Linked DNA regions of Homo sapiens. Changing the gene in region 2 together with the main gene of any one other region gives a genetic interaction. Each region holds a gene or a part of one and is shown on either strand. Other genes may lie near its edges.

Region 1 (3,500 bases), on a different chromosome or scaffold from region 2:
GGTTAAAAACTTTCTACCTAACTCTAAGGTGTCTCCCTTGAGTCCATCATTTTCCTCCCCAACTCCAGGAAATACTGTCCTATCCTCAACCTGTGTCTGTAATCTGCTTGCTTGCTTTTGTATACAATTTTATGCATTATTCCTTTAAAAATGTATACACACATACACATGTATATTTATTTACTTGTTTTATTTATTCATTTATTTTGAGACCGAATTATGAGACGGGTTTTGCCATATTATCCAGGCTGGTCTCGAACTCCTAGCCTCCGCCTCCCCAAGTGCTGGAATTATAGGTGTGAGCCACCGCAACTGGCCGATTTACTTGTTTTTAATTTATTGAAATATGCAATGTGATTATTCTGGGCTTTTCTTTGTACTTTTCACTTACTATGAGATCCCTAATATCCATCCATATTGTTGCGCATGACTGCCGGCCATTCATTCTGGCTGCTGCCTGATATTTCAGAGCGTGACCATCTCTTTCCTGCTAAGCACGATTTCAGTGGTTGCTAGCTTTGCTCTCGTGAACAGCATGGCTTGGACGTTCTTATCCCTGTCTCCTGGTATCGGGGAACCTGCCCCGATATTCACATAGATTCTTTTCTATTTTTCCTAAGCGTCGGCCAGCTTGAGAAATAAAGGGACAGAGTACAAAAGAGAAAAATTGTAAAGCTGGGCGTCCGGGGGAGACATCACATGTCAGTAGGTTCCGTGATGCCCCACAAGCTGCAAAAACCAGCAAGTTTTTATTAGGGAGTTTCAAAAGGGGAGGGAGTGTGAGAATAGGTGTGGGTCACAGACATCAAGTACTTTACAAGGTAATAGAATATCACAGGGCAAGTGGAGGCAGGGAGAGATCACAGGATCACAGGACCGGGGCAAAATTAAAATTGCTAATGAAGTTTTGGGCACCATTGTCATTGATAACATCTTATCAGGAGACAGGGTTTTGAGATCAACCGGTCTGGCCAAAATTTATTAGGCAGGAATTTCCTCTTCCTAATAAGCCTGGGAGAGCTATGGGAGACTGGAGTCTATCTCATCTCTGCAGCGTCGACCATAAGAGACGACCACGCCCAGGGGGGCCAGTTTAGAGACCTAACCCCAGGTGCGCATTCTCTTTCTCAGGGATGTTCCATGCTGAGAAAAAGAATTCAGCGATATTTCTCCCATTTGCTTTTGAAAGAAGAGAAATATGGCTCTGTTCTGCCCGGCTCACTGGCGGTCAGAGTTTAAGGTTATCTCTCTTATTCCCTGAACAATTGCTGTTATCCTGTTCTTTTTTAAGGTGCCCACATTTCATATTGCTCAAACACACATGCTGTACAATTTGTGCAGTTAATGCAATTATCACACGGTCCTGAGGCGACATACATCCTCCTCAGCTGACAGGATTAAGAGATTAAAGTAAAGACAGGCATAGGAAAGCACAAGGGTATTGATTGGGGAAGTGATAAGTGTCCATGAAATCTTTACAATTTATGTTTACAGATTGCAGTAAAGACAGGCATAAGAAATTACAAAAGTATTAATTTGGGGAACTAATAAATGTCCATGAAATCTTCACAATCCACGTTCTTCTGCCATGGCTTCAGCCAGTTCCTCCGTTTGGGGTCCCTGACTTCCCGCAACATCCCGGGGCACACATACAGGAGTTTCTCTTGGGCAACCAAAGGTAGAAGTGGAAGTGCTGGGTCATGGTTATATGAACCTCCCCTCCTCTTACAGCTGGGGAAACTGAGGCTCAAAGAAGGCAGAAAATTGTGCCTTGGTCCATGTGAATGGCAACGTTGTCCCAACTTGGAACAGCAAGTGGACAAGGAACCAAACATGAGGCTTAGTGAGGAGAGAAGATTAGCTCAAGTTTTCCCCTATGTTGTGGAGGGTTGGATTTGCAAGTGTCTCCTGAGCATCAGCTCTGTGGCAGGTACTGGGGCTGGGGCTGGAGATACAGAAATTGATCAACCTCAGGCCCTGCCCTGGAGGAGTCCTTGGTCTTTGGAGGGGCTGGGTAATGGGAGAGAGGGAGTGCAGAGAGAGAGGGAGACCCCAAAGCAAAACAGCAGTGACTGTGTGGTGGGTTAGTTGTGCTGCTAATGGGGAGAGGACAGTGGGGGATGCTCAACCAAGGCCGATGGAGGAAGGGGCAATCAGAGAAGGCTTCCTGGAGAAGGTGGCACCTGAGCCTAAAACAGAATAACGAGCTGGAATGCGTATTAGGGAACTTCAGTTAGGCAGTGGGAGCTCCAAGCTGGATATGTGTGGTGGAGAAGGCATTCCAGGCAGGAGGAATAGCACAAAGAAAGGCCTGAAAGGGAGGTTCATAAGTTCCTAATGATGGCGCAGATCTTAGCTTCAGAATTAGGGCATGAGGCCAGGTGCAATGGCTCATGCCTGTAATCCCAACACTTTGGGAAGCCAAGGCAGGCCAATCATTTGAGCTCAGGAATTCGAGACCAGCCTGAGCAACATGGCAAAATCCTGTCTCTACAAAAAATAGCCAGGCATGGTGGTGGGTGCCTGTAATCTCAACTACTCGGAGGCTGAGGTGGGAGGATCGCTTGAGCCTGGGAGGCGGAGGTTGCAGTGAGCCATGATTGCGCCACTGAACTTCAGCTGGGGCGACAGAGTGAGACTCAGAAAAACAAACAAACAAACAAAAAACAAAAATCAGTAAAGAATTGGGGGATGGGAGGACAGGATCATTTCACAAACTGTGGCTCATCACACTTTTATGTGACTCCTGCACTGCTGGCTTTTATTTATGTAGATACTTAATGAATTTTTGACTCCCCCCTCACTCTGCCCTTGGCATGGGGGCTTCTCTCCTGCAGCTGGTGGTCTTCGAACTGGAAAACTTCCAGGGCCGTCGAGCAGAATTCTCGGGGGAGTGCTCAAATCTGGCAGACCGTGGCTTCGACCGTGTGCGCAGCATCATTGTCTCCGCGGGACCGTGAGTACTGGGCGGCGGAGGGGCACACTCTCTGCCACAGTAAAATGACCACACAACAGTAGCTGCCATTTCTCCAGCATCTGCTCTGTGCCTGCGGCCGTTCGTACTCCTGGCACATACATTATGTCCAATCCTCATATCAAACTGAAGAGGGAGGAATTGTTCTCAATCTCATTTTACGGATGAGGAAACTGAGGCTCGGAGAGGTGATCCAATTAGCATAAGATCACACTGGCAGTAAGCCATGGTTCTGGGCTCTGGAGAAATGCTGCTTCTACTATAGCAAAAACTCTAGCCCGGCCGGGCGCGGTGGCTCACGCCTGTAATCCCAGCACTTTGGGAGGCCGAGGCGGGTGGATCACGAGGTCAGGAGATCGAGACCATCCTGGCTAACAAGGTGAAACCCCGTCTCTACTAAAAATACAAAAAATTAGCCGGGCGTGGTGGCGGGCGCCTGTAGTCCCAGCTACTCGGGAGGCTGAGGCAGGAGAATGGCGTGAACCCGGGAAGCGGAGCTTGCAGTGAGCCGAGATTGCGCCACTGC
Region 2 (3,500 bases):
GGAGGAATGCCTCCAGGATCTCCCTGGGTGACTGGATGGATGACAAAGCCGTCGGCAGCTTGGGACCCTGGTGAGGGGCAGGCACCTGCAGGGGGCATTAATCACCCCAGCGTGGGGCAGGCATGAGCAACCTCTATCTGTGGGCCCCCAGGGCCATCCAGGAAGTTTGGAAACGGGTCTGAGGCTCACCAGGTCTGGCTCAGAGCCCAGGGTTCGGGCTGGTCAGTGTAGGAGGGATGACCACCCACTGGTGGGTTCTCATCCGCCTGGGGAGAGGATGTGCTGGGAGCACTGGAGCTGGCTTAGGGCCATGGGCACCAACATTTAGGGAAGGCAGGGGTTTCAGGCTTTCATGAGAGGACAGAGGGACTGAGAAAGGTTGACTTGGATCAGGAAAGAGTTACGGGCTTATGGGAGCCAGAGGAGATGAGACTCAAGATTTTCTCACTCATTCACTCAAGATGTGTTTCGGGAGCACTGACGTCATACCAGACCCAGCACACACGGGGTCGGTTAAGAATACTCTGAGCTGCAGGTAACAGAAAACCCAACTACATTGGCTTGGACAAAGAAGGATCTGTTTTTCTCACAAAAGAAGTTGCAGATGCTGGCTTTCCTGCCCAACAATCCATGGCAGCTGGGGCCTCTTCCACTGTCTCATGCCTCCACCCTTGATGGGTCGTGTTCACACTCACACTGCTCTCCGTGCCGCCTTGTGGCCCCCGTGGCTGTCCAAGTCCCGGGTTTGTTGTGAGTTGTTGGCCACTTTGGAGAATCCCGTCCCCTTTGATGTGTGATTCGATAACATCCCATTGGTGAGGCTCACACTGTCGGCTCTCCCATTTGTGGCAGTTTCGCTTCAGGCGCGAGGCCCACCTTCATGTGCTCTGTGCCGCGGCTGAGCATCTGTGGACTGAAACGCGCACTTGTTCGTTCATTACGGATTGCTTTCCCTTTCATTCTTTTCTGTGTTAGGGTTAGGGCGTTATCTCGATAGGTGTAGGCAGGTTATGTTATCTCCACATTTTATTTCAGACCAGAAAAGAGGTGACACACAGTATCTGGTGACAAGGGTGTGTTGGTTCTGATAGGTTGAGAGCTGCTTGTCACAGCTGTCACCGTGACTTGAGGCTCCATCTCCCCAGCTCTTACACCCAGGCGCCCATGGGACCCAGCTCTGGACAGTAAGTGGGGCCAGAGCACATCCCACGTGTGTAAGCTGGTGGCTCCAAAACAAGCCGAAGGGTCTTTGGTCACTGCCAGAGATGTTCATGACCCGCCAGAGGAAAGGGTCCCTTGGCCTTCTCTGCTCTGTCCACACTCACTTCCCTAGTGACCTTGTCCCGCCTGTGGCTTTAAATCCCATCCGCGCCCTGATGACACCGGCCCAGATGTCTCCCCTGAGTGTGGTCATGCTCGTTCATCCACCGCTTTCCTGGCTCCACGTGCATGTTTGCTGACTTCCTACAGCCAGCGTGGCTGGGGGCACGTTCCCCAAGCCATTTCTACCAAGTGGGTGAGCGTTAGACACAGGGAGGTGCAGGGACTCGCCACAAGCACACACAGCTGGAGAAAATTCATCCAGGCCGCGAGAGAAGGGAGACACGCAGCCACAACTGTCACCCTCGACACCCCCACCCGCGCTCTCCCCTGAAGGTCGGCAGCTGGAGTCCGTCCGGGCTGAGGCAGCCGAGAAAGGCGACGTGGGGCTGGTGGCCGAGAACAGCCGCAGCACCCAGAGGCTCATGCTGCCACCACCTCCGCTCACTGCCTCCGGGGTCTTCAGCAAGTTCCGCGACATCGCCAGGCTCACTGGCAGTGCTGTGAGTGGGGCGGGCCGCTCATCCCGGACCCCAGACATCTTGGGGACCTGAGGCCACGCGTGTGTCAGGAAGGCTTCTGGGTAGACCATCAGCTGGGTCGCATCAGTCCTTCTCATGGGGTGCACAGCTTCCTCTCCTCCTTCCTGCACCCAATCCTAGGGGAGTCTCCTCTTCAGAGTCTAGCAGACCTAATGCCATGGCTGCCACATGACAGGACTCAGTAAATACTTCCTGGATAAAGGGAGAGGGAGGCAAGGAGGAGAGCTAGCTCGTTCTTACTGCCCTAAGAGTGGGCGGCCATGGGAGCTGGGACATGGGGATGGGGTGAGGGAAGGAGGGCAGGTATTCCAAAATGCAGGGCAGCAGCACGGCTGGTGGGGTGGAGGTGTGGTCCCTGCCTTCACCAGGCACTGACGGCTCTTCCCCTGACTCTCCAGTCCACAGCCAAGAAGATAGACATCATCAAAGGCCTCTTTGTGGCCTGCCGCCACTCAGAAGCCCGGTTCATCGCTAGGTAAGCGTGTGGGCCTGTGAGGCTACAGAGGGGGACTGCAGGCTCGGAGGTGAAAGGAGGGAGGGACTGGCAGCTGGAATCATCACAAATGCCCTGACCATCCTTGGATGAGAAAAGCATGAGCAGGAGGCCCAGCCCCTAAAGAGTGGGAAGGGACACCATTTCCTTTCACAGGCCAGCTTCTGTCCCTTGGTAGTGCTGTCTAGAGAAGGCCCCTGGGCCCCTGTGGGTGAAGCATGCTGTGATTGATTGGTGAGGTCTGCCTCGGCTTGGGCGCGGGCCCTGCAGCAGGAAGCCAGGGTTTGTTTGCCATGACAGTGAGAGCAAATCCATTGAGGGCTCACATCATGGAGCATTTCTTGGGAGCCCTGCCCTGTGCCCCGTGCCTTACCTCATCAGTTCCTACCAGCAACTCTGTGAGACTGGTCTTGTTACCCTCACCTCCAGTTTATAGAAGGGGAAATGGAGACATGGGGAGGCAAACTAAGCCACTTGTCTCCTGCCACTGGCTCAAAGCAAGGACCATGCTGGGGTCCTGACCATTACAGTCACCAGGGCGGGCGCCAGGCTCAGTTCTCTCCCTGACTCATCCTCCTCAAGCCTCGCCAACCCCTCAGGGCAGCTGAGATGGGAGGTGCTGGTGCACCTACTTGTGCCCCTCCCCAGTCTATGCTAGTGGGCAGGATCATTACTGCCTGGCTCAGTTTCCTCATCTGTCACATGGGGCTGTGTGATATCTGGGGTCCCTTCCAGGCTCTGAAGATTCTTCTGGTTTTTGAGGAGAGGGTCTACATACATCAAGGTCGAGGAGATCAGAGAAGGGAGGAGGCAAGATTGGGGAGGTGCAGACAAGCCCCCTTCCCTGGCCTGCTCTCTCCCCAGGTCCCTGAGCGGACGGCTGCGCCTTGGGCTGGCAGAGCAGTCGGTGCTGGCTGCCCTCTCCCAGGCAGTGAGCCTCACGCCCCCGGGCCAAGGTGAGCTCCTGTGGCCCGTCTCTGCATCCCTCGCTGGAGTTACCTCAGGCTTCCCCCCTCCTCTTCAGAGGCCCATGCCCGCCCCTTCCCCAGCGGGCCCCTGCCATACCAGGCTCCTCTCTCCTGGGTGGGGGGGAGGGGGCGTCTTGGGCCGCGGCATCTGCATTCCTTGCCATACAGCAAACCACC

Evidence for each region. A genetic interaction does not mean that the proteins touch.
Region 1: changes in LIG1 (region 2) and CRYBB1 together harm fitness more than expected from each alone (negative genetic interaction), as found in Homo sapiens cells (one large-scale study listed by BioGRID).

The regions. Positions count from the first base shown.
Region 1 is NC_000022.11:26,611,528-26,615,027, reverse strand, and holds part of CRYBB1 (beta-crystallin B1), read left to right. Parts: intron 1-2,837; coding exon 2,838-2,956; intron 2,957-3,500. UniProt on the Homo sapiens protein: Crystallins are the dominant structural components of the vertebrate eye lens.
Region 2 is NC_000019.10:48,135,845-48,139,344, reverse strand, and holds part of LIG1 (DNA ligase 1), read left to right. Parts: intron 1-1,656; coding exon 1,657-1,823; intron 1,824-2,260; coding exon 2,261-2,337; intron 2,338-3,219; coding exon 3,220-3,311; intron 3,312-3,500.